Regions from separate parts of the Homo sapiens genome. Here all the other regions are linked to region 1. Evidence: fine-mapped expression QTL. A gene starts in region 1. Each other region holds a variant in brackets. All regions are shown on one strand. Distances are between the middles of the regions.

Region 1 (8,103 bases):
TTCCTTCACCTCCTCTTCCTCCCTTTACCACAGATCATACTCTTAACTATAATCAGCTACTAGACATCTTCCAAGCGCACCACAACAGCACGATGTAGTTCAGAGTACTTTGCCCACAGTAGCTGCTCAATCAAATCTGTTAAATAACCTCCTTACAGCATTATTGTCACTCCGTCAGCCCTGGACTGTTCCTCCTTGACTTCTCTCAAGGGCACTCTCCTGATTTCTCTCCTGCTGCTTCAACTATTCCTTCTGTCCTCACTGGCTGCCTCTTCCATATACACTTTACAAATATTTACTGAGTCCCTGCTATGTGTCAGGTATGGTGACAGGTACTAGGGTACCCAGTGAATAAGAAAACTAGGTCCTTCAACCCAACGAAATACCCCAAAACTCCATCTCTAGTCCCTTCCCCTCATTTACCTCTGTTCCTATGCAGCTTTGACTTCACCTCAGTCTTATTTCTAGCTACTTGTTGACTATTTCTGTCTGCATATACTTCTATCACCGTGCCTGAATTCATTGCTCCCCCTTTTTACATCTTCCTCTGGCCTCCACACCCAGTTTCAATATCTCTGCCATTGCCTAGTTCCTTTCCTTGCATTCCTATTGATACCACTTGCCAGCCTATATTAGAACCTGCTTCTTCCTTGAGGTAGTTTGCCAACTGCTATTCTTGCTTTTCATCTTTCCAAGTAGCAATTCGTCCTATGCCTTGCTGCCTAAATCATTATTTTACAAATTATTGCCAGCTTTGCCCAGTATAAGATGCAGTGGGGAGGAGGTTCAGGAAAGTCTGAGGCCTACTTTTCTTTCTTTTTTCTTTTTTGAGACAGGGTCTTGCTCTGTCGCTCAGGCTGAGTGCATTGGTATGATCACAGGCCACTGCAGCCTCGACCTCCCAGGTGCAGGGCAATCCTCCCACTTTAGCCTCCCAAGTAGCTGGAACTACAGGTGCACACCACCACACTTGTCTAATTTTTTTTTCTTTTTTTTTTTTTTTTGTAGAGACGAGGTTTCACCATGTTGCCCAGGTTGGTCTCAAACTCCTGAGCTCAAGTGATCTGCCCACCTCGGCCTCCCAGTGTTGGTATTACAGGCATGAGCCACTGCACCTGGCCTAATTTTTGGTATTAAGACCTGCTTTTCATAGGGCATTCAAACTGCTTCACCCAGCATTTCAGGGATTCTTCAAAGACTATTTGGCTTGGTGTTTGAGGGTTCAAGCTTATATCCCCTCTTGCCTTGATTTGGATTTGTGCTTATTGTTCCCAGAAGGCATGGTACCCACTTCTGGGTCTTCACTAGGTCCCCCTCCCTCCCCACCTGTCTTGGCCTCTCAGTCCAACTCATTTAATACACATTGCTTTGTTTCCTACCTTTTAATCATCTGTCTTCTCTGCCCAGATTTTGTGGCCAACCCTCAGCCCCCAGAAATGGGCCTTTTGGCTTTTTATAATCGAGTACACTGAAATTTACTGTGTTCTAAGCACTGTTCTGTTTTATATACATGCTTTCATTTTATTTTCACAAGCCCAGAAGGTGTTAATTTTAACATCTTCATTTATAGAGATTAATTTGTCCAAAGCCATGAATAGGAGGCAGAACTCAAATTTGAAAGCAAGTCTAACTCCAGAATTTGGGCTCCTTTCAGTGACTGCTTGCCTAACCCTGCGTGACCACATAATAAGCCTCAACGAATATTTACTGTGGATAATACTCCCCTCCCACAGGAACTTCTCTTTGCCATGAGTGATCTCCCATAGTGCCTGGGGTTTGAACTACCCACTTTGGCACCTACTGGTCTATTGTCTGATACTATTGTTTCTTCTTTCCCTCATCTCAGGCTCTATTTTCTCATACTATTGTTTCTAATGTTGCCTTTGCCTAGCAGTTTTCCTTCTCTCATCAGGTCAGGGATAGTCCTATTGGCTGACGTGGGCGTGAGGGTGCTACGGCCTTCACAGCGGGATCTTCCTCCTCCACTGAAGACAATCAGTGGCATTCAAATCTAAGACTCCTTTGGGGTGTTTGTTAAAAATACAGCTGATTAGTTTTGGGGTGGGACAGAGGAATCTGCATCTTTAACACTCAGATCATTCTTAGGTTATAGTCAGTGCATCAGTCTACATTCCCGCCTTGTGAAGACTGACCCATTTAGGCAGGATTATTTCCTGGTATAGGGATTCTCTAAACATTGCACACAGCTGAAGAATTGGAAACTGGGCCTCTTTTGTTTCTGGATACACCACTTGGCAGGTGTAATAACATCCTCTGACAGGCTGCTTGCCACAGGTGCATGCTTGACACGTGCGTCTCGTTGGTACCGTCCCCTCCCCCCTTCCCACCCCTGCTGCCCAACCAAGACCCCTCTAGTCCCACCACCACCCGGCAGCTGTTGCCCTCCTCCAAGCCCCCAATCCTCCCCGGCCCACTGCCCTCCCTTCCTTTCCTTTCCCTGCCCCCACACCCCTTCCCCAGGCTCCTCCCACCCCAGAATATTTTTTTGTTCCTAAGTTTATCCTGTGAGGTGGGGGTGGGGGAACTGGTTAGATGGAGAGGACGCTCTGCCATTTAGAGGTCCTACTGAGTGGGCACACCTTTTCCCCTCGAGAAAACCTTGTTTCTACCAGAGAAATGGGCAGAGGCCTCTCTCTGGAACTTGAACCTCTCTGTCCCTGGAAACATCCCAAAGCAGGCCCAGCCTGCCATGTTCCTTTGTTGGGGCACAGAGGGAATGGAATCTTACCGATAAGGTGAGAAGAGCTTGAGAGAATACCAAGGACGGGCCCACCCTTCTCCCTCCTCCCTCCAAACACCTCAGGCTAAAAGGGGAGGGAAAAAAAAGGCACCAACAAAGAGTTTAAGACAGCAATTCCCAGCTTTTTCAAATATGAAGCATTTTTTAACCAATCCGTTTTTTAATTCTTAAATTCTTGACATTACAGAACTAAACTGAAATTTATTAACATTCCACTCTTACATTTCTTATCGACAAACAGAAATAAAATTCATGAGCCAAAAAACCCAAAACAAAACTAAAAACAGGGAAAAGCTTATAAAACTAAATATGGATCCCAGCATTAACAGCTGAACAGAGAATGTGATTTTTAAATTCTTAGCGGATGATAAAGTTGTGTAGAAACTGAACACTTACAAATTATTTAAAACCTGGAATCACTGACCAGAAATTACACAGTTGGATCATGGGAGAACAGCAGAAAGGGGTTATTGAGGGAACCTACACTGTTCTAGCTGCACCCCATGCCCTTCTCAGAGGAAAGCCTGGCATTGATTAGATACTGGGCCAGACTAATACTGGCAGCAGAGCCAGTGATAGTAACCTGCCTACCAGAGGAGCCTTCCACTGGGTTGGCAATTTTGATCTGGGCCCCGGACATCTGGCGGATCTCATTAATGTTGGCGCCTTGGCGCCCGATTATGCAGCCAATTAAGTTATTTGGAATGGTGAGTTCATGGGTGGTTTGAGTAGATGCATCCAAACTTGCCCAATAGCCTTTCACCTCTGGAGAGCTGGAGTCAATTCCGGCGAATCCGGTCCCGCCGTGCATCATGGCAAAGTGAGACTGTTGTCTTGCCACCTGGTTCAGCTTGGCCAGATCGAGCGGAGAAATGGTGTGTTGTCCTTGAATCGAGTAGGCATCTAGAGGTGGTCCCTCCAGGTCATGGGTGGCATGGGGGTAGCCCGCAGCGTCGCTGCACCGATCTTGGCCGCCCGCGCAGATGACTGGGGAGCTGGCCGGCATGGGCTGGTACGGAATGGTCATGACTCTCCCTTGCGGAGACTGGGAGAGCGTCTCCAGCATGACCAGGCAAATCTGCTTGACACACTCGGTGACAGACTGCGGCACGCCAGCGATGGTGATGGCCCGCTCGGTGGAGTTGGGCAGCATATCCCCCGCCACCTGGACCTGCGCCCCCGTACTCTCGCGGATCTCTTTGATCTTACACCCGCCTTTCCCAATCAGGGAGCCGCACTGGGTGGCCGGCACCACCAGCCTCAGGGTGACCGGGGGCCTGCTGGCCGCGGTACTGTTGGTCATGGAGCTGTTGATATCTTCCTCCAGCTTGTCGATGATCATAGCGAAAGCCTTAAAGATGGCATTGGTGGGGCCGGTCAGAGTGATGATTCTCTCCGGACAATTCCCCTCCGAGATGTTGATCCGCGCGCCACTCTCCTCGCGGATCCTCTTAACCGACTCCCCTTTCTTCCCAATGATGCTTCCTACTTCCTTTCCGTGCATAAGAAGCCGAATGGTGAGAGTCACATTTAGTCCACTTTCAGTCACACCGGCATCCATGGCGAGCGGCGGGCGGCGTTCGGGGGAGTTGGGCTCGTTACGTGGTCAAGTCTTTGGCGGCTGGCGGGGGGAGGGGAGGTGTAGGCCCAAAACTGCCGGCGCGAGGCGAGCGAGGGCCGCGGGAGCGAGCGGGAGCGGGCGGGAGGCCGCAGCGTAGTCGCAGGGGCGGGCGGCGGCGGCGGAGGGGGCGAGCGGGGCCGGGAGCGGCGGGCGGGCGGGTGGGCGAGGGCGCGGCGGTGGCGACTCCGGCGGCAGCCTCGGCGGTCTGGGCGGGGCGGGAAGCCCGCTTTCAACCCCGCGTACCCTCTGACCCCGGAAGTGCTTGCTGCGCAGGACCCCTTGAAAAAAAATGAGGACCCGTCTTTTTTAGGTCACAAGATTGCGCCAACCCTTACATGGTCCTTAAAAAAAAAACCTTCTGACACTGCAGTAGTGAAAATGAAGCGCACGATGGGCGGAAGCTGTGAGTCCGGCAAAGTTTTAAAATGATGACGTATTTTATTAACTCTAACGGCACTGGCGGGTGACTGAAAATACTAGTGCTGTGTATGCGGGATAGACATTATTTTCCTGCCCTACATGAGGGGCTCGTGCGCGGAACGACATGGGCAGCCCCGGCGGAAACTGCAGGCACAAGCCGGGACGCCGCGGGTTTAAAACATGCGCGTGAGGTGACCAGAGCGCGTGCGCGAGGGTGTGGGGGGATGGGAGGGGCAGCAGCCCTCTTCCGGGGGGGAGGGGCGGCGAGGCGAGGCCTGCGGAGCGGGTGCGCGCGGGCGGGCACGTGGGGCCCTTTCGTCCCCGGCGTCCGGGCGCCCTGCATGGATCCCCCACCCCAGCTCCTGCTCCCCGGCGGCGGCCGGTGGGCAGAAAGACCGAAACCCACTCACGGCCGCCTGCCGAATCGCGGCTCTGCTGTTTGTGGGGCGTGCTAGAAACGTGGTCCTAAAAAGAATGGCGTCCATTTACATAATGCTTTGTTTGCGTTTCGCAAGTTTCTTTCGGTTAAAGCCACAGAAACCCCACCTCCTGCCCTTGTGTCGTTTCCACCGCGGCACCCTTTTCCGACATTAGAAACAATAGTGTACGCCTGTGGAGGCCTCGTTTGTTCAGGGGCTGCCGGCCAGGGCTTCAGGACGTTTCTGCGGCTTTCCCCGCGCGGCCTGGGCTCCCGCGGCTGCTTTTCGGGCCCATGGGCGCAGCCACTGCGCCAGGCTCAAGGGGGGCGGCCCCGTCAGGGCCCGCCATCTTGGAAGGCCTTTTTTGCCGGTTCTTCCCGCTGAGGAAGTGTCGCTCAAGACGCTGGCCTATGAGTTGTGATTTCTGCCTTTTCCCCTTCCTCCTTGGGCTAAGCCAGACCAGAAAGGGCCCCGTGCGCAACGTGCTTCACAATCTCTCAGGGAAAGCGGCTAACGTGGCGCTACTCCGCCTCCCCTGTTCCTTACCCTTGGGGCGGCCGCCATGTTTCCTGAACACAAAATGGCGACACGTGGTTAGCATTCGTCGCCAACGAGAAATTGGGGTCGGCCCGAAAGCTCTAGAATGCACCCCTCTTCCTCCCCGGGGCCTTCCACCTCCGCGAGTTTTATGACTTAAAAAAGCCCACAGGCTGGTCTGAAGGTCGGAGGCCTAATTTTAACGCGTTTTCCTCCCTTTAATTTGAAACGGGAACGCGAATGACTGTAAAATGTGGGCACAATATTTAATCTCTCGCCTTTTTAAAGCTTAATAGTGGATAATAGGGGGGCAGTATCAAGGGATAATTTGGGTCCCCACAGTACCAAAGCATTTAGAAACCTCTGTTTAATTTAAGGAATGAGATAAGTTACTGCTTTTCTAGACTTCCTAGCATGGGCTGTTGTGCTGGAGAGAACGAGAGCTACGAAGAGACTACAGTGCCTCTGACTTTTTCATAGGACAGTTGGCCGGTGAATCTTATTAATAGTTTACCACAATTAAGTGTTCATTTTTAGTCTAGAAGGGACAGGCGTTTATTGTGCATTGGCCAGTGCCAGCACATCCGATGCAAGGCAGTTCACCGTATTCTATCTTTAATTTTTACCATGGTCCTCTGAGGTAGGTGTTCTTATCTCTCTCTCTCTCTCTCTCTTTTAAACAGAGGAAGACAAACATAAAGATGAAGTGCTTAATTCAAGGTCACACAATGTCGGGGATGGACCTCCAGATTTCCTTACTGGTGAGCACATTTTCCAGGTTTTTCTGTAAATCAGGGTTTTGGAATTTAAATACTATTTAAAACGTTTAGGTGAGCTTGTCATTTAAATGAGCCCTTCAGGTAATCTTTTGTTGTGCAGTCAGCCCCTTTTTGTATCAGGCAGCTCCCAGCTTTTCCTGATAAGAGCTACACCTGTAACGGGCGGGCGGGCTGAAATGCTGTCTTATGCAGTGTCTGGTGAGGATAGGGAGGGGGAAGTGATTCAGCCTGCCCAGAGGCTCAGGTGTCTGTCGGTCTGGCCCTGTCTGTGGCACATTTGAGCCTACCTGCCTCTGGGGGAGCAAATGGTTTTTTGTATGACTGACTTGCTTCCGTCAGCTCCCCATGGGCTTGACTCTTGCCTCCCCCACCCCAGCACCCCAACCAGGTAAAAATAAATTCGCTCTGGCACCAAGCCTCCATTTCTCTGCAGAGATTGACAGAGCATGACAGAGTGTTAGGTCAGTCTGTGGACTCTTCAGTTCAATGCAACACGTAGCTAGTGGGCCAAGCAACAAACTGGTGCCTGAGCAGGGCTCTGATTGTGTGTGGATATGAGAGACAAAGAGAAGGGCTTTTTGCCTTTAACTTATGTTACTATCAGATATATTTTCCAAAGTGGTTTCATGTTAGTTTATATAACTCTACGAACATTTAATAGGTACATAACAGCAACGATGACAGTTACAGCACTAGGTGCTTACTGTGTGCTGGGCATTGTTCTAAGCCTTATTTTATGTATTCAGTGTCTCACATTTTTAAAAAAACCACTAAGAAACAAATTTTACATTATGATTTAAGACATTTATGCACACATATGTAACAAAATTTTTGCAAAACAATATTTGTTACTACATGCAGTATATGTACTTGGGTAATTTCTATTCTTTATATATAAAAAGGACACATTATAAAGTGATTAAAAACCCATTAATAAGTTGTGACCGCTTATACACATTTAATCCTCACAAAACCTCCTGAAATGGGTGGTGATATTAGGTCAGTTTTACAGAGGTACAGATTAGTGAAGGAATTTATCCAAGGTCACACAGCTATTAAGTGGTAAAGCAAGGATTTGAATTTAGGCAATCTGAGTCCAGAGACTCCATTCTTAACCACTAAACTGGATGTGGTCTCTGCAGAGAGTCCTGTCTCATAGGGAGACAGAATAGATGAGGGAATTAAAAATATTACCAAGTGTTAGAAACTCAGGTGACAACAAAAGGACTAAATTGCATATAATCAAGGAATGTTCAAACAAAGCCTTCTTCTGGTCTTTTAAATCTAACTTATTTCTTTTCTCTAGAGAAAATTTTATCTGTCAGGTCTTTCTTTCCAAGACTACCTACTGAAATATTTCCATAATTTCCTGTTATGTACTCCTGGGACTTAGTGCACCTCCTCAGTGAAGCCTTCCCTTTCCCAGCTTCCCCAGCTCTTAGCCTCCCTCCTTCCCCGAGAGTCTTAACAGTTTCTCCCTTCGGTAGCCCACGTTTGGACGTTGGTTAAATTGTAATGTGTCTTGGGGTTGGTAACATGTCATACAGACACCTTGGGTGATGCTGT
Region 2 (8,103 bases), 21 kb after region 1:
TCATTCTGCACAGAAACAATTTCTACTTCTCCCTACTTTGTAAATGCAGTCTGACAAATCTGTGCTTCACTTAGGATTATTTAGTTACAAGGTGAGTATGCTTTCCTTTCCTCCTTGAAGAATGAATTGATGGTGAGCTAAGTCTTTACAATTGTCTGTGAGTTTGGAGGGTTTGCAGTCTCCTACTCTTGTAATCATTAGGAGGTCAGGCTGCTGCCCTGCTGCATACGCCATCAGAGCTCACAAAATGGCTGGAAGTTTATCCGGGCACTTGACAAACTGCATTTACTTCATCAGGCCACTAGGTGATGAACAACTCACAAACCCAGACTGCCAGGGACTGTGGTGTACAGGGCAGTTTCTGTTTATACTTGGAAAGGCCATTCGAAGTCATCTGGTCCAAACTCATTAAAAGGTTTTTGTTGGGGAGGGGAAACATGTTTTTTATATAGTTTGTCTTTCCTGGCTTTGTTACAGTTAAATGTTAATTGCCTGGGACATTTCCTTTTTTTTTTTTTTTTTTTTTTTTTGATACGGAGTCTCACTCTGTCACCCAGGCTGGAGTGCAATGGCACAATCTCGGCTCACTGCAGCCTCCGCCTCCCGGGTTCAAGCGATTCTCCTGCCTCAGCCTCCTACAGGCGTGCGCCACTGTGCCCAGCTAATTTTTGTATTTTATTTTTTTAGTAGAGACAGGATTTTGCACTGTTAGGCTGGTCTCGACCTACTGACCTCATGATCGCCCGCCTTGACCTCCCAAAGTGGTGGGATTACAGGCGTGAGCCACCACTTCCAGCCAAGTAGGACATTTCTTTGAGTGATTTTCTTAGAAGGGGGGCATGAGTGGTACTTTCAAAGTCTTTTTATGTCCAATTTCTTTTTAACCTTCGTGTATGAATGATATTGTGGTTAGGTTTAGAATTCTTGGAATACTAGTCCTAGTCTCGACAAAGTCTAAGTAGCTTTCCAGTGTTTTGAGTTTCTGGTGATACAGATGAGAAGTCCAATGGGATTTTTTTTCCTTGTAAGTAATAATCTGTTCTCTTGTTCTGGAAGTTTGTGAATTTTTATTTATGCTTAGAGTTTCCTGTGGTATGCTTCTGGTATGTCTTTTTTTTTTTTTTTTTTTTTTTTGAGATGGAGTCTTGCTCATGTTACCCAGTCTGGAGTGCAATGGCACGATCCCAGCTCACTGCAACTTCTGCCTCCTGGGTTCAAGCGATTCTTCTGCTTCAGCCTCCCGAGTAGCTGGGATTACAGATGCGTGCCACCACGCCTGGCTCATTTTTGTATTTTTAGTAGAGATGAGGTTTCGCCGTGTTGGCCAGGCTGAGGTGTATGCCTTTTAAAAATAACACTTGTTGGCACTTGATGAGCCTTTTAGACTTAAAAACTTAAAGTCTTTTTTCTGTTCAAGGTTGTTTTATTGCTTCCCTTTCTTTTTTTTTCCAACCTCCTTACTTTATAGAACTCAGAAAGGTGAAGTGACTTGTCCAAGCTCATATAGCTAGTTACAGATGAACCTCAAGCAAATAACCTGACTCCTTTGATGAACTAGACTTTTGTGTATTGAATATTGCTCCATTGAGAGGGCCATTATGAACAACTTAGAAACTTTTTAGTGAGACAGGAATTTTGCCAAGCCTTTGTGGGGAGATGAAGAAGGAAGAAGAGATAAAATTCATTATTTGTGGCCCATTTGAAGGGCTAAAGAATTCGCAAGTTCCCTGGTATCTCAGTTATTGAGCTACCCCGAAGCTCTAAAATGTAATAAAACCAGGAAGTTGCTTGAGCACTTGGAGAATTAGATTTTTAGTAGTCAGGAGTTGGATAAATGTGGTCATGCCCTATTGTAAATATCAAAAACATATAAATGGCATCCGAAGGCTTGGAGACAGACATCATAAACCATGTCTTATCAGTGGTCTGGTTTCTGTTTTGAGTTCCAACCTGGGATGCTTCTGTGGGAACCACCTGTTCCTGGCTCTGTTGATCTTTGGATTTCCCCAGCCCTTCAGTCCCTTTCAGTTTTGAAATGAAACCTACCCCAGAGGGCGAGGTCAGGTTACGAAGAGGACTTTGACAGCTCACCTTGGGTTGTTTTTTTCCCCCAGAGCTGTCTAGTGTGTGACTGTGTGAGGTGTGAGGCTCAGCAGGCTGTGATACAGATTAATTGATGGTGAATCAGCTGTTGGGTAAGGCCTGGGCTGTGTCATTTTTTGGGTAACCAGGAAAACATGACCAAATACATTGTCTTTCATCTATAGAAAGTTGAAACTTAAGGGTACAATCACCAGAAAGCTGCCCATGATCTCTGCCTTTGGTTTACTGACGAAGGAAAGGCTTTTTTTTTTTTTTTTTTTTTTTGAGACAAGAGTTTTGCTCTTGTTGCCCAGGCTGGAGTGCAATGGCACAATCTCTGCTCACTGCAACCTCCGCCTCCTGGGTTCAAGTGATTCTCCTGCCTCAACCTCCTGAGTAGCTGGGATTATAGGCATGTGCCACCACGACTGGCTAATTTTGTTATTTTTTTTTTTTTTTTAGTAGAGACGCGTTTTCTCCATGTTGGTCAGGCTGGTCTCGAACTCCCGACCTGAGTCAGGTGATCCGCCCGCCTTGGCCTCCCAAAGTGTTGGGATTACAGGCATGAGCCACTGTGCCTGGCTGAAGGAAAGGCTTTAACTTGCCTTCATCTTTCCTCATTTGTAGATCTTCCTTACCTCCTTTCTATTCACATCTCTAGCTTCCTGCTGCTGCTCTAGCTACTAAACCTTTACATAATGTGCCTTTTGGAATTGGTGCTTTGGAAGTGACTCCTCTAGATACCCCTAGAAACCCCCGTTCTCCAGCCAGACTCACAGAATGCAGCTTGCCGCCTCCTTTTTCTGTAAACCTGGTTTCCATAAGATTGCAGCACTTCATTTGGAATCTTTACAAGTGAAACTAGCTCTTTCTTCAACCCACTCCTTACCACTTCACCCCTGACTTTGCCTGACTGTACTTCAGCCCCATTCCTCAGCACTCCAGAGCTGCCTCCAAATGGCCAGATACTTTCAGATACCTTTTGCTCTTTGAAATTTCTGCTGGCCAGGAGGCCAGCAAGGCCACTTGATCACTGTCCTTGAAGCTGGCATCTATACCCATTTCCCCTGTGTGTGTTGCGATTTTGGTGTCTGATCTCTCCTCCTGGGGCTATAGCCCAGGCTCAGAGATTGGTGACCAGGGCTTGCCTGGAGCCAAGGATTTGGGATAGAGTGTGGACTTAGGGGGCTTGGTGTTAACATTTCAGAGGTAGACAGATGAGAAGCCAGAATACGTGAACCTCAAGGCCAGTGGAGGATGGGAAGGACAGAGAGAATTTAGTATCTGAAGCAAAAGATGACCTTTGTAAGCTTCTCCTCCTGCCCAATCTTTTTGAAAAATTATTTAATTTACAGAGAATATAATAAATGATATTTTTAAAATACCAAAACATTGTAGATCATATTTTGGCTATTCCTGTCTCCCCATTTCAGTTATTTCTGTATTCACTAGAGGTAATGTATTGGTGATTTGGAATGTACCTGCCATACTTCTTCCTGTGTGTTTATTTACACATGTATGAACCCAGAAAAAATTTAAAGTATTATTTTTTGTTTTATTTAATTCTCTATACAAGTGATATAACATCTTATGTATCATTCTGGTATTTTCTTCTATGATTTAATAACATGCTTTGACAGTATTCCATGTTAGTACAAACAGGCATATCTCATTCTTTTTGGTGCTGGATAGTATTTCATAGAATGGATATGCTGTATTTTATTTGGCTATTTTTCTATGAAGACATTAAGGTATTTCCAGTTTTTGGGTGATCTCAACCTCTTTGGCAGCTTCAGTTACCATCTACACGTGGATGATTCCCAAATCTCCAGCCCAGATCTCTAGACCAGATTATCCAATTGCTTACAACCCCACTGGGATGTCTTGCAGCCCCCTGCTTTTTCTCACTTGCTCCTTCTCCAGTGCCCAATCATATACATTATAGACAGTATGCAGCGGCTAAAGCCCCAAAC[C/G]CAGTAATGATTAATCATTCCTTCCTTCCCTTCCCACGTCTGACAACCAGTCACTAGGACTTGTCCTCCCTACCTCCTCAGTATTTCTTGAATCTAATCATTTTCCCTCTCCATTGCTACTGCCCTGTACGTTAGTTTTTAAATTTATAAAAGAGTACTTCTGAGGATTAAGTGAATTAATATATATAAGATGCTTAGAATAATAGATTGGTACCTACTAATTGCTATGTGAATCTTAGTTGTTATTATCATCATCTTAGTTTATATAATCCATTATCATCACTGCTTCCAGTCTTAATTTTATTCACCCCTACCTCCATTCCAGTCTCCACACTACAGCCAGAGTGATCTTCATAAAATGGAAGAATGGGCCAGGCGTGGTGGCTCATGCCTGTAATCCCAGCAATTTGGGAGGCCGAGGTGGGAGGATCGCTTGAGCCCAGGAGTTCAAGGCAACATAGTGAGACCATGTCTCTACAAAAAATAACAAATTAGCCAAGTGTGGTGCTGGTGAACATCTGTGGTCCCAGATACTTGGGAGGCTGAAGTGGGAGGATCATTTGAGCTTGGGAGGTTGAAGCTGCAACGAACTGTAATGATGCCACTGCACTCCAGCCTTGGTGACAGAGGGAGACCTTGTCTCAAAAAAAAAATAAAGTAAAATGTAAGAATGATTGCTTAAATGATAATTCTCCTGCTTAAAAAGATGTCAGTGAGGCCAGGCGCAGTGGCTCATGCCTATAATCCCAGCACTTTAGGAGGGAGGCCAAGGCAGGTGGATCATCTGAGGTCAGGAGTTCGAGACCAGCCTGGCCAACATGGTGAAACCCCATCTCTACTAAAAATACAAAAATTAGCTGGGCGTGGTGGCAGGCACCTGTAATCCCAGCTACTCGGGAGGCTGAGGTAGGAGAATCACTTGAACCTGGGAGGTGGAGGTTGCAGTGAGCTGAGATTGCGCCATTGTACTCCAGCCTGGGCAACAAGAGCGAAACTCCATCTCAAAAAAAAAAAATGATGTTAGTGATGTTTCCATTGAACTGCTTTGTGTTTTGGAGACAGAGTCTCTGTCTCCTGGGCTTGAGTGCAATAGCATGATTTCGGCTCATGCAACCTCTGCCTCCCAGTTTCAAGCGATTGTCCTGCCTCAGCCTCCCAAAGTGCTGGGATTATGGGTGTGCACCACCATGCCCAGCTAATTTTTGTTATTTTTAGTAGAGATGGGGTTTCACCATGTTGGTTAGGCTGGTCTCGACCTCCTGGCCTCAAGTGATCTTCCCACCTCAGCCTCCTGAAATTCTGAGAGTACAGGCGTGAGCCACTGCACCCAGCCTCCATTGAGCTTTTAATGACTTCATTTTATTGAGATACCTGATTTTTCTTTTCTTTCCTTCCTTCCTTTTCTTTTTCTTTCTTTTTTTTTTTTTTTTTTTTTTTTTGAGTCAAAAGCCTCGTTCTGTCACCCAGGCTGTAGTGCAGTGGTGTGATCATAACTGACTGTACCGCTCTGGGCTCAAGGGATCTTCCTGCCTCAGCCTCCCCAGTAGCTGGGACTAAAGGCATGCGCCACCACACCTGGCTAATTTTTAAAAAAATTTTTTGTAGAAACGAGGTCTCACAGCTGGTCTCTGTGCCACTGCACCCTGCCCCTGCTTTTAAATGCTATCTCTTCAGACAGGTCTTCCCTTGACTATCTAATGATTCTAAAGTATCTACCCATATGCTTTTATTAACATCACCTGATTTTAATTCTGTGATCGCACTTATCAATATATTATAATTTTCTGGTTTATTTACATATTTGTTTATAGTCTTCTCCAATTAAAAGAGAACAGGAATATTGTCTTTTTTTTTTTTTTTTTTTTTTTGAGATGGTGTCTTGCACTGTTACCCAGGCTGGAGTGTAGTAGCGCCATCTCGGCTCATTGCAAGCTCCGCCTCCTGGGTTCATGCCATTCTTCTGCCTCAGCCTCCTGAGTAGCTGGGACTACAGGCGCTAATTTTTTGTACTTTTAGTAGAGACGGGATTTCACCGTGTTAGCCAGGATGATCTCGATCTCCTGACCTCATGATCCACCCGCCTCAACCTCCCAAAGTGCTGGGATTACAGGCATGAGCCACCCACCGCACCTGGCCTTTTTTTTGTTTTGTTTTGTTTTGTTTTGAGATGGAGTCTGGCTCTGTTGCCCAGGCTGGAGTGCAGTGGTTCGATCTCGGCTTACTGCAATGTCTGTCTCCTGGGTTCAAGCGATTCTTGTGCCTCAGCCTCCTCAGTAGCTGGGATTAGAGACGTGTGCCACCATGCCTGGCTTAAGTTTTGTATTTTTAGTAGGAACAAGGTTTCACCATGTTAGCCAGGCTGGTCTTGAGCTCCTGACCTCAAACGTTCCGCCTGCCTTGGCCTCCCAAAGTGCTGGGATTACAGGTGTGAGCCACTGTGCCTGGCTGATATTGTTTGTTTTATTCATTGTTGTATTCCTAGCACCTAGGACAATGTCTGACACATTATTGACAATACTTGTGAAGTGAATAGTAAAACAACTTTCTTTGTCCTATTAGGCCCTTTTGGCCTCTCCAGCATCATCTGCATCAGTCACCTATCTTGACCTTCCCATCCTCCAGCTCATGACATCTCTTTAGATGTGCTTTCTTGCTGCAAGGCCTTTGCGTGTGCTCTTCATTGTGCCTAGAACACCCTTCCTCCCATGCTCTGCCACTGCCTGGATATCTCCTATTCATCATCTAAGTTATAGCTTAGTATACATATAACTTCACCTGATTAGCCTTGATCCTACAACTCTGCATGCATTGCCATTAATTATCATATGTATTGTAATTATTTTGTTGTCTGTGTCCTTCACTAGACTGTAAGCTTATGTTGTGCTCACCATGAATTCCTAGTCAAAGCTTATCAGCAGTGGCTAGAAGGACCTTTGAGGTGGGGCACTAGGGAGGGGGATAGAGTATTGGGGGCAGCACCTGAGGTCTAGGAAGCTGTGCTTTAGGATGTCAGGGTGAGTTTTAAACACTGGCCCTTGGTTCATTGTCATTCTTCCTATTTCGTCCATCTTTGGTAATTCCCTTGTTTGCCTGGATGAACCATCTAAAATGATTAAGTCATATCCATGAAACCAGGGTAAGCCTGACACAAAACACTTGCTCATGAAGGGAGCATGTGTCCTGAGGATAAAGGTTGAGAATCTGGGTAGGCATATTATTAACTTCAGGTAGCTGAGGGCAGAATAACTGACAGCGGAGTAGAATTCTAAGCAAGGAAGGAAGCAAAAGGCCTGAAGGATAAGATGAGACAAGGCTGAAGCAGGATCATTAAATCATAAACCTGGAGCACCTGGATAGTGAGTAGAGTGTAAGAAGGAACAGGGCAAGCAATTCAGGATTAGAGTCATAAATAATCTTGGGGATTACTTAAATCATCTTTTAGCATTCTTACCTCTTTAGTTTGGAACCAGCTTTTGGATTATAGAAAGGATCAGATAGTTGACATACAAGGATTTGAGTGAGAGTGTATATTACTTTCTCTGTATTTTATGGGCTCTTTACTTTAAAATGAAATCCCCAGAAATCCTACCTTAACTTTTCCCCCACCTAAATTTCTGCTGCCAAGAGCCTATCCATTCTTTTAAATATGTCAGGTTCAACTCCCTTATCTTTGAAACAAGTTGCATGTACAGAAGCCTGCAGTAGTCCTGGAGCTTCCTTCAGACAGGGTGAAGGGAGTGAGCTCTCTTCAGGCTACCTCCTCCCACTGAACCAGGCATAGGAGCTGGCCTCAGCAGCCTTAGGAGTTCAGGACTCTGTTCAACATGAATCTGTGGAATTTCTCTCTGAATTTTGGGGAGAGAGTATTCTGTAGAATATAGTACGGGACTCTGTCAGTGAGGCATAGCAAAAAGTACTGGAAGACTGGCTGGATGTGTGTGAATGGTGGGATCCGAAGGTATGTAGGAGTGGGCATCAAGGTTTCTGACCTGGCTCTTAAATTTTGACAGCGTTAGGGGGCACTCATGTGCCAAGTAGAGAGTCTTGA
Region 3 (8,103 bases), 74 kb after region 1:
CTTTCCATGTTTTGTGTGTGTCCTCTTCAGTTTCTTTCGTCAGTGTTTCAACAGTGTTTTCCATGTACAGATCTTTCATTTCCTTGATTAAATTTATTCCTAAGTATTTTTTATTCATTTATTTTATTTTATTTTATTTTATTTTATTTATTTATTTATTTTTGAGGTGGAGTCTCACTCTGTAGCCCAAGCTGGAGTGGCGTGATCTCGACTCACTGCAACCTCCGCCTCCTGGGATCAAGTGATTCTCGTGCCTCAGCCTCCTGAGTAGCCGGGACTACAGGTACGCACTATGACACCTGGCTAATTTTTTGTATTTTAGTAGAGATGGGGTTTCACCATGTTGCCCAGTGTGGTCTCAAATTCCTGAGCTCAGGCGATCCTCCCACCTTGGCCTCCCAAAGTGCTGGGATTGCAGGTGCGAGCCACTGCGCCCAGCCTATTCCGAAGTATTTTTAAATAGCTATTGTAAATGAGATTGTTTTCTTCATTTTTTTGATAGTTCGTTGTTATTGTATATAAACACTACTGAATTTTGCATGTTGATTTTGTTTCTTTTTTTTAAAAAAATACTAACAGACAAGCAAATGCATGTTGATTTTGTATCCTGCAACTTTACTGAATATGTTTATCAGTTCTAACAGTTTTTTGGTGAGTCTTTACTATTGTCTATCTAAAGATCATGTCATCAACAGACAGACAATTTAACTTTTTCCTTTGCGATTTGGACAAATTTTATTTCTTTCTCTTGACTAATTGTTCTGGCTAGGATTTCCAATACTGTTTTCAATAGAAGTGTCTGAAATAAGCATTCTTGTCTTATTACTAATCTTACGAAAAAAACTTTCAATTTTCACTATTCAATATGATGTTAGCTGTGGGCTTATCGTACATGACCCTTACTGTGTTGAGGTCCATTCCTTCTGTGCCTAATTTATTGAGAGTTTTTAATCATGAAAGGATGTTTAATTTTGTTGAATACCTTTCTCCATCAATTGAGATGATCAGGTTGGGCGTGGTGGCTCACGCCTGTAATCCCAGCACTTTGGGAGGCTGAGGTGGGCAGATCACAAGATCAGGAGATGGAGACCATCCTGGCTAACATGGTGAAACCCTGTCTCTACTAAAAATACAAAAAAATTAGCCAGGCATGGTGGTGGGCACCTGTAGTCCCAGCTACTTGGGAGGCTGAGGCAGGAGAATGGCATGAACCCGGGAGGCGGAGCTTGCAGTGATCTGAGATCACGCCACTGCACTGCAGCCTGGGTGACAGAGCCAGACTCCGTGTAAAAAAAAAATTGAGATGATCATAGGGCTTTTGTCCTTCCTCCTGTTAATGTGGTGTATCATATTTATTGATTTGTATATGTTGAACCATCCTTGCATCCCAGGAATAAATCCCAATTGATCATAATGGATTATCTTTTTTTTTTTTCTCCCTTGGTGGGGACAGAGTTTCACTCTGTTGCCTTGTTGTCCAGGCTGGAGGACAATGGTGTGATCTCAGCTCACTGCAACCTCTGCCTCGTAGGTTCAAGCAATTCTCATGCCTCAGCCTCCTGAGTAGCTGGGATTACAGGCATTTGCCACCATGCCTGGCTAGTTTTTGTATTTTCAGTAGAGATGGGTCTTCACCATGTTGGCCAAGCTGCTCTCAAACTCCTGACCTCAAGTCTGCCTGCCTTCGCCTCCCAAAGTGCTGGGATTACAGACATGAGCCTGGCCTGGATGATCTTTTTAATGTGTTGTTGAATTTGGTTTGCTGGTCTTGCTTTGTCACCCAGGCTGGAGTGCAGTGGCATAATCTTGGTTTACTGCAGGCCTTAAACTCCTGGGCTCAAGTAATCCTCCTGTCTCAGTCTTTTAAAGTGCTGGTATTACAGGTGTGAGCCACATTGCACCTGGCCTTATTGAGGATTTTTGTATCTATGCTGATGTAGTCCCATTGGTCTATAATTTTCTTTTCTTGTAGTGTCCTTGTCTGGCTATTGTTCACGAGCATGTTGTTCAATTTCTTTGTATTTGTGAAATTTTCCAAAATTCTTTTTATTATTTCTAGTTTCATACCATTGTGGTCAGAAAAGATACTTGGTATGATTTCAGTCTTCTAAAGTTTATTAAGACTCGTTTTGTGGCCTAACATGTGAGTTGTCCTCAAGAATGTTCCATGTGCACTTGGGAAGAATGTATTTTCTGCTGCTGTTGGATGGAATGTTCTTTATGTCTGTTAGTTTCCTTTGGTCTAAAGTGTAGTTCAAGTTTGATGTTTCCTTTTTGATTTTCTGGCTTTATTGAAAGTGGACTATTGAAGTCTCCTACTATTATTATTATTATGGAAATGGAGTCCTGCTTTGTCACCCAGGCTGGAGTGCAGTGGCAAAATCTCGGCTCACTGAAACCTCCTCCTCCCGGGTTCGAGTGATTCTCCTCCCTCAGCCTCCTGAGTAGCTGAGATTACAGGTGGGAGCCACCATGTCCAGCTAATTTTTGTATTTTTAGTAGAGATGTGATTTCGCCATGTTGGCCAGGCTGGTCTTGAACCCTTGAGTTCCAGTGATCTGCCCACGTCAGCCTCCCAAAGTGCTGGGGTTACAGGTGTGAGCCACCACACCTGGCCTAAAGTCCCCTACTATTATTGTATTATAATCTCTCTCTCTCTAGATGTATTGATATTTGCCTTATGTATCTAGAAGCTTTGATGTTGGATGTATTTACAGTTGTCCCTTGGTGTGGGATTGCTTCCAGTACCTCTGTGTGTAACAAAAGCTGCACCATTCAAGTCCCACAGTTGCCCTGCGAAACCTCTGTATATGAAAAGTTGGCCCTCCATGTACATGGGTTTCCCATCCTGTGAGTACTGTATTTTTGATCCTCATTTGGTTGGAAAAAATCTGCATATAAGTGGACCTGTGCAGTTCAAACCCGTGTTGTTCAAGGGTCAGCTGTATATTTACAGTTGTTATATTGTCTTGATAAATTGATCCTCTGTCATTATGTAATGATGTTCTTTGTCTTGTTTTACAGTTTTTACTTAGTCTGTTTTAAGTATAGCTACCCCTGCTCTCTTTGGTTTCCATTTGCCTGAAATGTCTTTTTCTAGCCTTTCACTTTCATTCTATGTGTGTTCTTAAATGTGAAGTTAATCTTCATAGGCCACATATAGTTGGGTCTGTTTTTAAATTTTTGATAGTATCCAACCTAATGGGTGTGAGGTGATAATTCTTTGTGGTTTTGATTTGCATTTCTCTAATGATTAGTGATGTTGAGCATCTTTACATATGATTGTTGGCCATTTGTGTCCCTTCTTTGGAGACTATTCAAAGTCCTTTACCCATTTTAAAAATGAAGGCATTTGCCCTTTGTTGTTGAGTTGTAGGAATTTTAAAAATATATTCTGGATAGTAAATCCTTTTCAGATATAAGATTTGCAAATGTTTTTTCCCATTCTGTGGGTTGTCTTTTCACTCTTTTTCTTTTTCTTTTTTTTTTTTTTTTTTTTTTGAGACAAGGTCTTGCTCTATTATCACTGGAGTACAATGGCGTGAATGTGGCTCACTGCAGTCTCGACCTTCCTGGCTCAAGGGATGCTCCCACCTCAGCCTCCCAAATAGCTGGGACTATAGACACATGTCACCACATCTGGCTAATTTTTTATTTTTTGTAGAGATGAGATTTCACCATATTACCCAGGCTGTTCTTGAACTCCTAGGCTCAAGTGATTTGTCTGCCTCAGCCTCCCAAAGTGTTAGGATTACAGGTGTGAGCCACTGCACCCGGCTGCCTTTTCACTCCTAATTGTATCCTCTGTTGCACAGAAATTTTTAAGTTTGATGTAGTCCCATATGTCTCCTTTTTTTTCCCCATGCTTTTTATGATTTCTAGCATCTTTTTGTGGGCTTATTGTGCTTGTATATCTTCTTTGGAGAAATGTCTGTTCAATTCCTTTGCCCTTTTTTGAATGGGGTTGTTTGGTTTTTCTGTTGTGGAATATTTAAATTTCTCTATGTATCCTCAATGTTAAGCCATACTAGAGATATGCTTTTCAAATATTTTCCCCCATTCTGTGCATCACCTTTTTTACTCTGCTGAAAGTGCTGTTTGATGCAAAAAAGTGTTTAATTTTCATGAGGTCCAATATATCTATTTTTTCTTTTGTTGCCTGTGCCTTGGGTGTTATATTCAAGAAATCATTGACAAATCCAATGATATGCTCTT[C/T]TACACTCTTAAAAATTATAGACAACCCCAAATAACTTTTATTTAGTGGTTTTAACAATATTTACCATGTCTGAAATATGATAAACATTAAAATTAGTATTTTGGAAAAATGCCATATTAGAAACTGATGATTTAAAAGTAACAACAATGAATCCATTACATGTGAACATACTGTTTTTTTGTTTGTTTGTTTGTTTGTTTTGAGACGGAGTTTCACTCTTTTGCCCAGGCTGGAGTGCAGTGGTGCGATTGCAGCTCACTGTAGTCTTCGCCTCCCAGGCTCAAGTGATTCTCATGCCTCAGCCTCCTGAGTAGCTGGGATTACAGGTGCTCACCACCACACCCGGCTAATTTTTGTAGAGATGGGGTTTCACCGTATTGGCCAGGCTGGTCTTGAACTCCAGACTTCAAGTGATCCACCCACCTTGGCCTCCCAAAGTGCTGGGATTACGGGCATGAGCCACTGCACCAGGCCAACATACTTTTTATAAAAACAGCTGTCTTCTCTAAAACAACAAAAAAATGTAGATAATAGTAGTATCATTTTATAGTTTTGCAACTCTCTTTAATGTTTGGCTTAATAGAAGATAGTTGGATTCTCGTATCTGTTTTTGTATTCAGTCTGTTGTGTATGTTGTTTTGATTGAAGTAGATGAAGGAAATCCAGCTACATACAGATTTGGAGTTGGAAAAAATAGTATTTTAATAACCTTTTTAGATCATGGTGGATACTCTTCTTTGTTATGTCATCAAAATTAGACAAATGGCAGTTTCTGAAAAATTAGTTGTAATGTGTGTAAAAAATTAGTTGAATCCATATCAGTGAACTCATACTTTTCTATATTAAACTTCATTGCTCTATCTTGCACTTTGAATGGGTCTTTTATTCATGCCTGATTTTGTAACATCATGCATTCGTCATTTTGAAAATGATGGTTCAGTGAATTATTCACATCTTCTAAATGTAGGCACATTTCAGTCTATAATATCAAAAACATATTTGTCAGTGTTACCACTGATTTCATCAGAAAAGTCTTGAGGTGTTAAGAAGTCTTTAGGTATCTACCAGCATGGATACACATTTTCCAAAATTTTAAATCTTCACTTGACAGCTCAAATTTTACAGTTGGCAACAAATACTGTCAGTTGTTTTCTATGAGGTGACAGGTTCACTTAATTCATTTTTGAGAAAATGTTTGCCAAATACCCAAGTCTGAATAATCATAGTTTGTTAGTCATTTTTTTCCTAATAAAAATGATGTTCTATGAAAAAGCAAGTAGTCAGCTTGTAATTCAAACAATCAGGTAAGTGCTTCCAGTACTTAGGTATTCAGCAGAAGTGCTTTGTGTACAGAGTATTAATAAGACATGTATTCAAGGGATAAGTTTTAATAAAATTAATAATTATTACTCTATCATGGACATTTTTACATTAAGTTTGCCTTTCTGTTGAACTGCAAGTACATGGGGGTGAAGACTGTGACTCCTGGTGCAGTTTGGTGCCTCTTCATTGACTTAAGGCTCTAGAAGGCACCAAATACTGTTGCTTTTGCATCATCAGTGCAAATGTCCGCAAAGTGAATGCTGCAGAAAAACTCTTGGTATTATTATAAAAATGATGTTGACCTTGGCCGGGCGCGGTGGCTCACGCCTGTAATCCCAGCACTTTGGGAGGCCGAGGTGGGCGGATCATGAGGTTGGGAGATTGAGACCATTCTGGCGAACACGGTAAAACCCTGTCTCTACTAAAAATACAAAAAATTAGCCGGGCGTGGTGGCGGGTGCCTGTAGTCCCAGCTACTCGGGAGGCTGAGGCAGGAGCATGGCATGAACCCGGGAGGCGGAGCTTGCAGTGAGCCGAGATTGCACTACTGCACTCCACCCTGGGCCACAGAGCGAGACTCATCTCAAAAAAAAAAAAAAATGATGTTGATCTCTTGGATCCCCCGGGAAGGGTCTTGGGGACCCAGGAGTCCAGGGATCATAATTTGAGAGCCATGGCCTATACGACCATGGGTACTAATAGCACATGCCTCCAGCACCCTCCATCAGCCTCCCTCGGCCTCATTTTCCTCAGTTGTAAAGGGAGGCCTGGGCAGGCTCTGTTTCTTCACACTGTTGGACCCTGTTTGCTAGCCCCCGAAGCTGCTTCTCCCTTAGCGGTGATGCTGCTTTCAGCTCCTGCTTTTCCTCCCTCTCTCATGCCTCCCTTTCTCTCCGTGGCTCCTCTTCCCCTCACTCTTTACAGGTTGGCATTCTTCTTGTTTCGTCTCCTCCTCCTTTCCCTGGATGATCTTATTTCCTCCCTGGTCTTTAACCATCACCTGCAGGCTGACAGCTCCCAAATCTCTATCTTCAATCCAGATGTCTGTCCCGGGCTCCAGTTTTGTGGTTCCACCTGAGACCTTTCCACCTATATGCTTTACAGGCAAGTCAAAGTCAGCATGTCTAAACTGGTTTCTTCGTCTTCCCCTACACATTGCTTCCTCTTCCAGAATAGACAGTCTTGGTTAATCCATCATCTGCTCAAATGCTTAAGCCAGAATCCCAGGAGTCCTCCTCCCCTTATCTGGCTCCCTCCCTTCCCTCATCTGCTCACCTGGCCTATCAGTTCTGCCTCCTAAACATTTTCCCAATCTCTCCCTGCTCTCCAGCCCCACCACCACTGCCTCAGCTCAGGCGCTCATCCCTTCTCACCTAAACGATTGCAAGGGTCTTCTCCCTGGCCCCCTGCCCCCTGTTTTCAACCTGTACTCTACAGTTCTGGTTGGAAACCACAAGAGTTATCTTCTCACACTTTTTTTTTTTAACTTTTAATTTAGGTTCAGGGGTACATGTGCAAGTTTGTTATATAGTTAAACTCGTGTCACAGGGGTTTGTTGTACAGATTATTTCATCACTCAGGTACTAAGCCTAGTACCCAAGAGTTATTTTTTTTGCTCCTTTCCCTTTTCCCACACCCCCCACCCTCCACCCTCAAGGAGGTCCCAGTGTGTATTGCTCCCCTCTGTGTTCATGAGTTCTCATCATTTAGCTCCCACTTGTAAGTGAGAACATGTGGTAGTTGGTTTTCTGTTCCTGCATTAGTTTGCTAAGGATAATGTGTTTTTCATTAAGTAAATACATATCGAGTACTTACCATACCAGGCTCTGTGCAGGCTGTGGGAATACAACATAGGACATAACAGATACTGTCCTGACCTCCAGCACTCACAGCATATGAAGGAGGAGAGAAAAGGACAGGGCACAGGTCATTAGGACCCAGTGCAGTGGGGAAAGATGGCAGAGGTGCTTGGGAACCCCTAGAAGTTTTGACTGAGGGCTGAGTCTGAGGGTGTTCAGGGAGCACTTCCTGGAGGAAGCAGCTCTCATGTTCAGACTGCAGCCTGGGTGGGAGTTAACTAAAAGAGATGGGAGTGTTGTGGTGAAAAACGTTACTGGAAAGTTTGATCATTTAATTTCCCTGTTAAATACTTCTCTTGTGAGCTTCACCACTGCCTGCAGGATCAAGTCCAAATTCCTTATCATGAAACACAACCTTTGTGGCCTCGTTGTCTGCCACTCCCCTGTATTCATTGTCATCAGCTTGAACTGCTTTCAGTTCCCCCCAACGCTGCTTGCTCACTCTCTCAGCTCCAGGCCTTTGCACATGCAGTTCCTTGTGCCCTCCACCCTTGCCACGCAAATCCCTACTGCCTATCTATCCAACTGTGAATCACCCCACGTCAGCTGTTCAGGAGACCTTCCTGGCCCCTCCCCTGTAGACTTTGTGGCTCCCTCTCTTGTGCTTCCCACCTGTACACACACCTGGACTCTTGTGCCCTTATCACGTCCTTAGAGCTTTTCCACTTGTGTATCTCCCGTGCCCCTACTTGACAGTGTGGGAAC
Region 4 (8,103 bases), 110 kb after region 1:
CTAACGTTCCTATCTTACCTAACCAGGGTACATTTGCCAAAACTAATAAACTAACATTGGTATGATACTGTTAAGTAAACTCCAGATATTTTGGGATTTCATCATTTTTTCCATGAATGTCCTTTACTGTTCTGGGATACATTCCAGGATAGCATGTTGTATTTAGGGTGTGAATATTTGTGAGACTTCTTAGATAAATATACACATACATACACATTTGTATGTATGTGTGTGCATGTACACTTGAAAATCATATAAATTTATATTCCCACAAATAGCATTGCAGGGAATGAGAAAAAGACTTTGCCAACTTAAAAGAGAAATAGCAATAATAACAATGTGGCTTTAGTGGGCATTAATTCATTGCTAATGAGTTTACGGATTTTTTCATCTGTTTGGTGGCCAGTTGCTTTTCTTTGTTTTTGATTTCTCAATCACCTGCAGGAATTTTTGTCAGTGTTTAGATCTTTAGCTTCCACTCAAGGTGACACACAGCCAGAGTCAGGTGAGCATCTAGAAGCTGTGACTGGTGCTGCATCCTACTAAGTCACTGAAGGGGCCATGGGGGAGGGCAGGCTGCCCACGTGCTCCCTGTACAGACTTGGTTTCTCCCTCGGAGGCCTGCCCAGGTGGTGGAACCCAGCGACAATGAGGCTCCCTGCTCTCTGGGGCAGGCCAGCGGCAGGGGGAAATCTCATTCTATTTTCTGAGCCCTAGTTTTTTCACCCATTAAATGGGCACAATTTAGGCCTGTTCAGGTACTAGAAGATGATCGTGAAGTCACTGTGTAAAGCATCCTCCAAGTGGGTGATGGTGTTGTAGAGAGCAATGTGGTGAAGGGGACTGAGCAGTGCCTCGTATGGAGAGCGTGGAGCTTAGTCCACCAACCCAGGTGGCAGGAAACGCTCCTGAAATCAACTCAGCTCCAACTCTGAGCTCCCATGGTGCCTGAGGAGGAGGAAACTTCATCTTGGTCATTTTTAGGCCCCATCCAGTGAGGGTCACCCAAGAATCCAGGAGGTTGCCCAGAAATGTGGACAGGCAAGGGGCCTGTCACTCTCAAGGGCCTCATGAGGCTGAGACTCTGCCCCCAGGCCATTTTGGGGGCCTTTGTGCCCAGTTTGAGGGGGGTCCCATGTCCAGGGCTGGCCTCCCCACCTCTGTGTCCTGCCCCTCCCAGAGGGACATAGTACAGGCCTCTGCCCTCTTCCCACTCCCCAGTTCCTCCTCCCCTCTCTGTTCTCATTTTCTCCGAAGACTCTTCCCTCAGAGACTACAAGGAGCCCAGACACTGAAACAAAGAGGCAAAGGAGAGAAGGGCCTGGGGTGGCTTCTGCCTGGTCCTGAAACTCAAACGTCCCTGGCCGGGCGTGGTGGCTCACACCTATAATCCCAGCACTTTGGGAGGCCGAGGCGGGTGGATCATGAGGTCAGGAGATTGAGACCATCCTGGCCAACATGGTGAAACCCCATCTCTACTAAAAATACAAAAATTAGCTGGGTGTGGTGGCATGCACCTGTAGTCCCAGCTACTCAGGAGGCTGAGGCAGAAGAATCGCTTGAATCCAGGAGGTGGAGCTTGCGGTGAGCCGAGATCACACCACTGCACTCCAGCCTAGTGACAGAATGAGACTTTGTCTCAAAAAAACAAAAACAAACAAAAAACACGTCCCCTGCAACAGGGACACCCAAAAGAGGACAGGTCCAAGACCTTCTTGGAATGGGAGGAGGAGGAAAAATGCAACCATTGAAACACACATGAGTATCTAAGGAAATAATCTGGCCACACAGAGAAGAAATATGAAGATATGGCCTCTTGTCCAAATGGCACAGACCTGCCGTGTGGCCTCTGACAAGTCACCCATCGTCTGGGAGTTTCCTCAGTTGTGCAATGAAGGGGAGGGTTCCATGACCTCTGAGGCAGCCCGGCTCTCCTGTCCACGGGCTGCTACCACCTTGGAGGGCGCGAGGTTTGCTTCCGGTGTTCGGGGCCTTTCCCAGTCACTGCCTCACCAGGACACCCTCACCCGTGTCAGGCTGGGAAAGGGCTTTCTTAACCTTGTCATGCCTTGCTGTGGCTTGTCGTTGGTGTAATCTGTGAGGGCTTTTGTAGCTCTGCGTAATCATCAGGGTGAACGGGAGGTAGCTCTGGGTTTGGCCTAAGGCTGTTATGCGTTATCTCCTTTAATCCGCATAACTGCTTGATGGGCTGGGCCTGTCGTTTTCATTTTGTGAAGGGGAAAATGGGGCCCAAAGTTGTTTTCCTAAGGTGGCCTAGTGGGTGAGGCAGTGCTGGTCCCATTCTCAGACTGAGCTCCCTGGCCCTCCGGGTTGTGTCCCCTCTATGGGGCAACTATCCAGGGATGAGTGTGTGACCACGCTCAGAACCAGCCTGGGAAAACTTTCCCCAAGGAGACTCCCCTGGAGGCTTGGAGGGGTGGAAAGAGTGTTGGGAGAGTACAGAGCCCCCTGGGGAAGAAGCTTCTCTGGGGGTTGGAGCAAGCATTTCTCAGAATGCTGGGATCACTGCCTGGCCTTAAGCCCCAAGACTGCCAGCACACCCGCCCTGCAGAGGGTTGTAGCCAGAAACAGGCACCTGGCCAGTTGCATTTGTGCAAAGGAAGCCCATAGGGCCCCAGCCTGCTTCCTTTATGGGCTAGGGCAGGGTAGGGGATGTCTGAGTTTGAATTTAGTGTCTAGGGGATCCATACCCACACTTGTCATTCACCACCCAAGGGCATGGACCCACTTCTGGGGCTCATGACCTAGAGGACAGGCCAGACAGCCTGGAATGACACAACTCAGGGTGACACCAACAGGTCCCACTGGCTACTTTGTCACCTCCTTTTCTTCACTCCCCCCTCTGGAGTTACTAATTTCCACTTTGTGACCCTCCAAAGATGCATTCCACCCAACTTTCCCATTGAACTAGTGGGGAAATGGTACTTTCTGTATCCAAATCTTAGCTGAAACCAGAATTGGGGTTATATTGACTAAAAGATCATTTGGGGCCACTTCTTTTCATTTGTATTTATTAGGCCCCTCCTAGGTGGTAATGGGCCAGGTAGAGTGAGAGTACAGTAGAAACCCAAGACGAAATTATCCAGGAAGGTCAACCTTCATTTTACAGATGGAGACACGATAGTTCAGAGATGCAGAGGACCTCGCCCAAGGTCACGCAGATACCGGGCCAGTCTTGGGTTTGGAACATGAGGTTCCTGCCTTTCAGCCCCGTGATCTTTCGACAGCATCTTACACAACTTACAGAATGGTGGGGGAAGCAGGAATCGCACCTGCAAAACAATGACGGAACCCTGAGGGGGCAGGGCTCCCATTGCCAGTGACTTCCCACCCACAGTGGCTGTCAGTGCCTTTATGTTGTTTACTTAAATGTGCTTGTCTGGAGGTTGTCATTTTCTTTTGAGACACTGGGAATTCCCATAATTTTTTAAAAAAGTTCAGTAAAATTGAATTTCTACATTTTTGCCCAATTTTTTTCCTTTTTATTTTTTATTTTTTTTTACAGAGTCTCACTCTGTAGCCCAGGCTGGAGTGCAGTGGTGCAACCTCCTCCTCCCATGTTCAAGTGATTCTCCTGCCTCAGCCTCCCGAGTAGCTGGGACTACAGGTGCGCGCCACCATGCCTGGCCAAGTTTTGTATTTTTAGTAGAGACGGGGTTTCACCATGTTGGCCAGGCTGGTCTCGAACTCCTGACCTCAGGCGATCCACCTGCCGCGGCTTCCCAAAGTGCTGGAATTACAGGCATGAGTCACCTTGCCTGTCCCATTTTTGCCCA[G/A]TTTGTGTCTCCTCGGTGTATGAGTGTGTGTGTTTTGTCAGGGGCACTCTGTTCCTATAGGTTGGTCTGATTTGGGACTCTCTCTGTGTGTGCTTTGATGGGGGCACAGTGACAGGAGATGGTGGAAATAAGGCGTGGAGAGGCTGTATTGTGCCATCATACCTTACCAGGACACTCTGTGCCTGGAGGGGGAAAGGGAGGGGGCCAGCCATGCCAGGCTGAGAAAGGGCTTTCTTAACCCACAAGTGTACAGGCCTTGAAGGCTCATGACTTAGGGTCATTGTCACCCATTCATTCAGTCAAATCTGGAAAGCATTCAAAAAATAATTAAAAAATCACCTCTGGGGAAAAGTCTGGTGTCAGGTTCAGAAAGGATTTGTTTCATATCCAGAGCCATGTCTGGGTTGTGTTCTCTGCTATCCAAGAACCCGAGGGCTCTCATTCAGCCTCAAGGGCTATGGAAGTGACTCCTGGTAGGTGGCTCCAGCACTGACTCTGGGCCCTCAGGGTCGAGGTTGCGGTGAAGACTGCGGTCTGCATCGCCTCCTGCCCCAGATCGGATTGGAGGGAGCCAGGTGAGCGTGAGGAGGAGGCAGTGTGGGGCTGGGCCTGGCTTCCAAGGAGAACTACAAGAAGACCAAAATCAGATTGGGATCTCATGGGAGGGCAGCACTGGGTCTGGAACGGAAGGCTTTGCCCACCTGGCCTCTACACGGACCACGTGGCCGGAGGGTTGGGCCTTCCAGGGCCATGCACCTGGGAGGGACAAGGCTGGGTGCGGTTGGGTCACATGTCTAACTTGTGTTCCTTTGAAGCTGTGAGTTGGACAGATTTTATCTTGCCTGTTTTGACCCTCTGTGAGCTAACAGCTGGGGGTGGGGTGGGGAAGGGGAGGACGGAGAGCAGTAAGCGTGCTGGTTCTTCTTTTGGTCTGTTTAGCAACTTCCCATGACTTTTGAGCAAGGAACAGGTGTAACCCCTTGCACCCTGAGGTGTGCAGTTGACTACATATGCCTGTGGCCTCAAGGCCATGTAGAAATTGTCCCTGGTTCAGCCAAAGCAAATTCAAAACCAAAAGCAAATTCACTGACCACGGGGGAAAGAGTAGGAGATATTAAACAAGCAGCTCTGCCTGGCCTTCCACTCACATGGCCATGAGGCCCATCATTCAGCACATCATCTCGGCCCCTACTGCGTGCTGGGCACTGTGAGGAGCTTCTGCCTCCTGTCTCCTTCACGCTCCTTTCCTTTCCCCTCCATAGCTCAGCAAGGCCCACATTTTCCCGGTGAAGCCACAGAACCACAGGGAGAAACCCATGGACTTCGCCTCTCTCTCTAGGCAAGTGAATTTGGTGGCAAAGTCTCTTGGCAAATTCAAATTGTACTTGCTACAGTCTTTTCCTCAAGTAATTCTGGGTGCTTTCCAAACTTACCAGTTCCCTGAAGTACATGGGAGGAGGCAGGGAAGCTTCTCGGGGGAGGAGCAGCACCGGCAGGGAGGCCGAGGGGCAGCAGTGCGGACAGGGAGTCAGGTGACGTGAAAGGAAAGGTGGGTTGCAGGCTGGGCTCTTGCTGTCTGTGGGCTCCATTCAGAATCCCCCACTTCACCTAGGACACTCTGGCCTCCGTCCAGGCATCACTGCCATGGAAATCCCAGATACATTCAAGTCCTCTGTTAAACACCTGCCTCCACATCCCCTCCAGATCTTCTCTGTCCTCAAAAGGAGCTCTGCCCTTCAAGGGAGGGGCTGGGGGCTTTGCAGCTTTCTGTGCCTCTGGCCAAGGCTGATCCTCCTTCCTCCTGCCTGAGAATCCAACCTTAGCCTGGAGCAATCCCAGAGGAATATGGGTGTGGGAGTTTGTCGCGTGTGACCCACAGTCGGCTCTGGGACCCCTGCCCCAGGAGCTCTGGAGGACTGTCAGACACAGCTTGTTGCAGGGAAGCTAGTTGACAGAAGATGTAACAGGAGTGTGAACATGCCATCAGCCCATACCCCGACCTCCAGGAACAGCCTAGCCTTACGGTTCTGTGCCCTCCTCAGCCCAGGGACTCTTCACCCACCCAACATTGTCATTACCCAAAACTATTTCACCTCTGCTCTAAACAATTCCAAAATCCCCATCCTCTGATCCCAGCCTTCTTCCTGTCCAGAGTTCTCATCCACAACTCCTGCCACCCCAGGGTGAATGGCGAAGCCCTCCACCAACATGGCAGCCCACAGAGGAGCAGACTGGAGAGAAAGAAAATGAGTTCAGTTTCGCTGATAGATCTGAAAAATATACATTGGGCAGGGCCATCAGGTTTTGGAGAGCCTTTTGAGGGCCCTGCTCAAGGAAGAGCTGGGCTTGGGGTTCAGATCCAGGTGTGCTCAGATCATACCAGTTCCTATGAGCTGATTGTTAAATCTTCAGGAATTTCATGAACCAATGGTTAAACCCAGCTATTATGAAAAATTAAATTATAAATTAAATTATATAAACTTACAATTAAATGAATTATATTAAGGCAAAAATAATAAATTTTCAAAAACCATCACTTCCTAATAATTTTTTTTTTTTTGAGATGGAGTTTCACTCTTGTTGCTCAGGCTGGAGTGCAATGGCACGATCTCAGCTCATTGCAACCTCCGCCTCCCAGGTCCAAGGGATTCTCCTGCCTCAGCCTCCTGAGTAGCTGGGAAAACAGGCATGCACCACCATGCCTGGCTAATTTTGTATTGTTATTAGAGACAGAGTTTCTCCTTGTTGGTCAGGCTGGTCTCGAACTCCTGACGTCAGGTGATCTGCCCGCCTCGGTCTCCCAAAGTGTTGGGATTACAGGCATGAGCCACCATGCCTGGCAATAATTTTATATTTTATTATTCTTTATTCTTTTAAGATTATGTACATCTATTACATCTGTGGAAATACTATATAATGTTGTGTTACTGTGCTTTTTCCCCAAGTCTGCATTCAGTGACATCATATTGGTGGATTGAAATCAGCCACAGTGGGAATATTTACACCACAGAAGTGGGCAGCAACCACCACAAATCAGGGCTTTATTCATTATTTGGTTGACTATCTAGACTTAAGAAGGTTATGGAGAAAATGCTAATAATGCACATTAAACTTAAATGTATGTTTTGCCAATGGCCATTGCATTGTGAATGGCACAGAAAAATGAAGGAAATATTCTTCCAGTATTCAAAAACTATTCTCTGCTTCAGTAAAGAAATTGCTAACACCATTGACAAACAAGTAAAGTTCTGGCCAGGTGCAGTGGCTCTTGCCTGTGATCCCAGCACTTTGGGAGGTCCAGGCGGGAGGATTGCTCGAGGCCAGGAGTCCAAGACCAGCCTGGGCAATATAACTAAACCAGTTCTCTACAAAAAATAAAAAAGTTAGCTGGGCGTGGTGTGCACTATCTGAGGCAGGAGGATCTCTTGAGCCCAGGCGTTTGTGGTTACAGTGAGCTATGAACATTCCACTGCACTCCAAGTTCTGGGCAACCCATTCTGTAAAAAAAAAACAACAAGTGAAGTTCCAACATCTGTCTTTCTGGCTTCACTTTTTTCTTGCTAGTTGGTACAAACAAAAATATCAGTTAACATTCATGTTGGAACTACATTCATTTATCAGTTACAACTGTAGGCTGGTTATAGATTCAGCAGGTTGGCAAAAATCAATGAAAGCATCCTGTAAGACCCAACTGGCCATATGCAATTTACAGTAAAGAGTAGTATATATTTTTTATTATTTGTAAATTATTAGCCATCCTTTATGTCAATAAAATTTATCATAAATGTATGTATGTGTATATATGCATGCATTTTCCCCAGAGAGCTCATTGTTAATTAAACATCTACCAGCATACTACTGGGCAGGTTGCCTTAGTCTGAGGAGTGGCCAGAGATTTGACTCTGGAAAGATTCCCAGAAGAGGGTGGGAATGGCTGATGGAAAGAGGCTACTGAGGAGGTTGGAGGGGGCCTCAGGTGGAAGGATTAGCCTGGCCAGGCACAGAGTCCCTGAAAAGGGATGAGAAGTGAAGAAAACCTGGGATAGGGTGGAGTGAGAGCTCGCCATTTCTCTGCCAAGCAGGACGCAAGCCATCTTCTGCAAGCAGGAGGTGGAGAAGTGAGGAAGGGTGAAGGTTTGGCCTGAGTAGAGTAGTCAGTGTGGGGCCAAGAAAAGGGACCAGGGAGGACGAGGAAGAGTAAGGAGGACTGCAGAACACTCATGAAAACCGAGAGGACGGCAGGCCCGGCGAATGGCTCACGCCTGTAATCCCAGCACTTTAGGAGGCTGAGGCAGGCAGATCACCT

Evidence for each region.
Region 2: its variant is fine-mapped to the expression of PCBP1-AS1 in whole blood (TOPMed, PIP above 0.99).
Region 3: its variant is fine-mapped to the expression of PCBP1-AS1 in whole blood (INTERVAL, PIP 0.97).
Region 4: its variant is fine-mapped to the expression of PCBP1-AS1 in fetal neocortex (Walker 2019, PIP 0.91).

The regions. Positions count from the first base shown.
Region 1 is chr2:70,083,963-70,092,065 of GRCh38, reverse strand. It overlaps PCBP1-AS1 (PCBP1 antisense RNA 1), which reads left to right and starts at 5,051. Exons shown (of 11, transcript NR_033872.1): 1 at 5,051-5,088; 2 at 6,442-6,519. It overlaps PCBP1 (poly(rC) binding protein 1), which reads right to left and starts at 4,589. Exons shown (of 1, transcript NM_006196.4): 1 at 2,863-4,589. The coding sequence starts at 4,322. The coding sequence ends at 3,252. It also overlaps a transcript of ASPRV1 not described here. RefSeq lists silencers at 2,247-2,336, 2,427-2,476, 4,503-4,562, 5,013-5,162 and enhancers at 3,285-3,451, 3,523-4,167, 5,373-5,582, 5,623-5,712, 5,853-5,992.
Region 2 is chr2:70,063,211-70,071,313 of GRCh38, reverse strand. The region is part of intron 4 of PCBP1-AS1 (PCBP1 antisense RNA 1); the gene reads left to right. It also overlaps a transcript of ASPRV1 not described here. Among named protein-coding and RNA genes, the nearest start is that of PCBP1-AS1, 20 kb to the left of the region's middle. RefSeq lists enhancers at 156-225, 163-457, 1,904-1,983. The variant C/G (reference allele first, on the strand shown) is at 4,056.
Region 3 is chr2:70,010,195-70,018,297 of GRCh38, reverse strand. All of the region lies in intron 7 of PCBP1-AS1 (PCBP1 antisense RNA 1), which reads left to right. It also overlaps a transcript of ASPRV1 not described here. Among named protein-coding and RNA genes, the nearest start is that of ASPRV1, 53 kb to the right of the region's middle. RefSeq lists an enhancer at 7,677-7,746. The variant C/T (reference allele first, on the strand shown) is at 4,216.
Region 4 is chr2:69,972,592-69,980,694 of GRCh38, reverse strand. All of the region lies in intron 9 of PCBP1-AS1 (PCBP1 antisense RNA 1), which reads left to right. It also overlaps a transcript of ASPRV1 not described here. Among named protein-coding and RNA genes, the nearest start is that of ASPRV1, 15 kb to the right of the region's middle. RefSeq lists enhancers at 3,938-4,448, 4,449-4,960, 7,665-8,103. The variant G/A (reference allele first, on the strand shown) is at 3,798.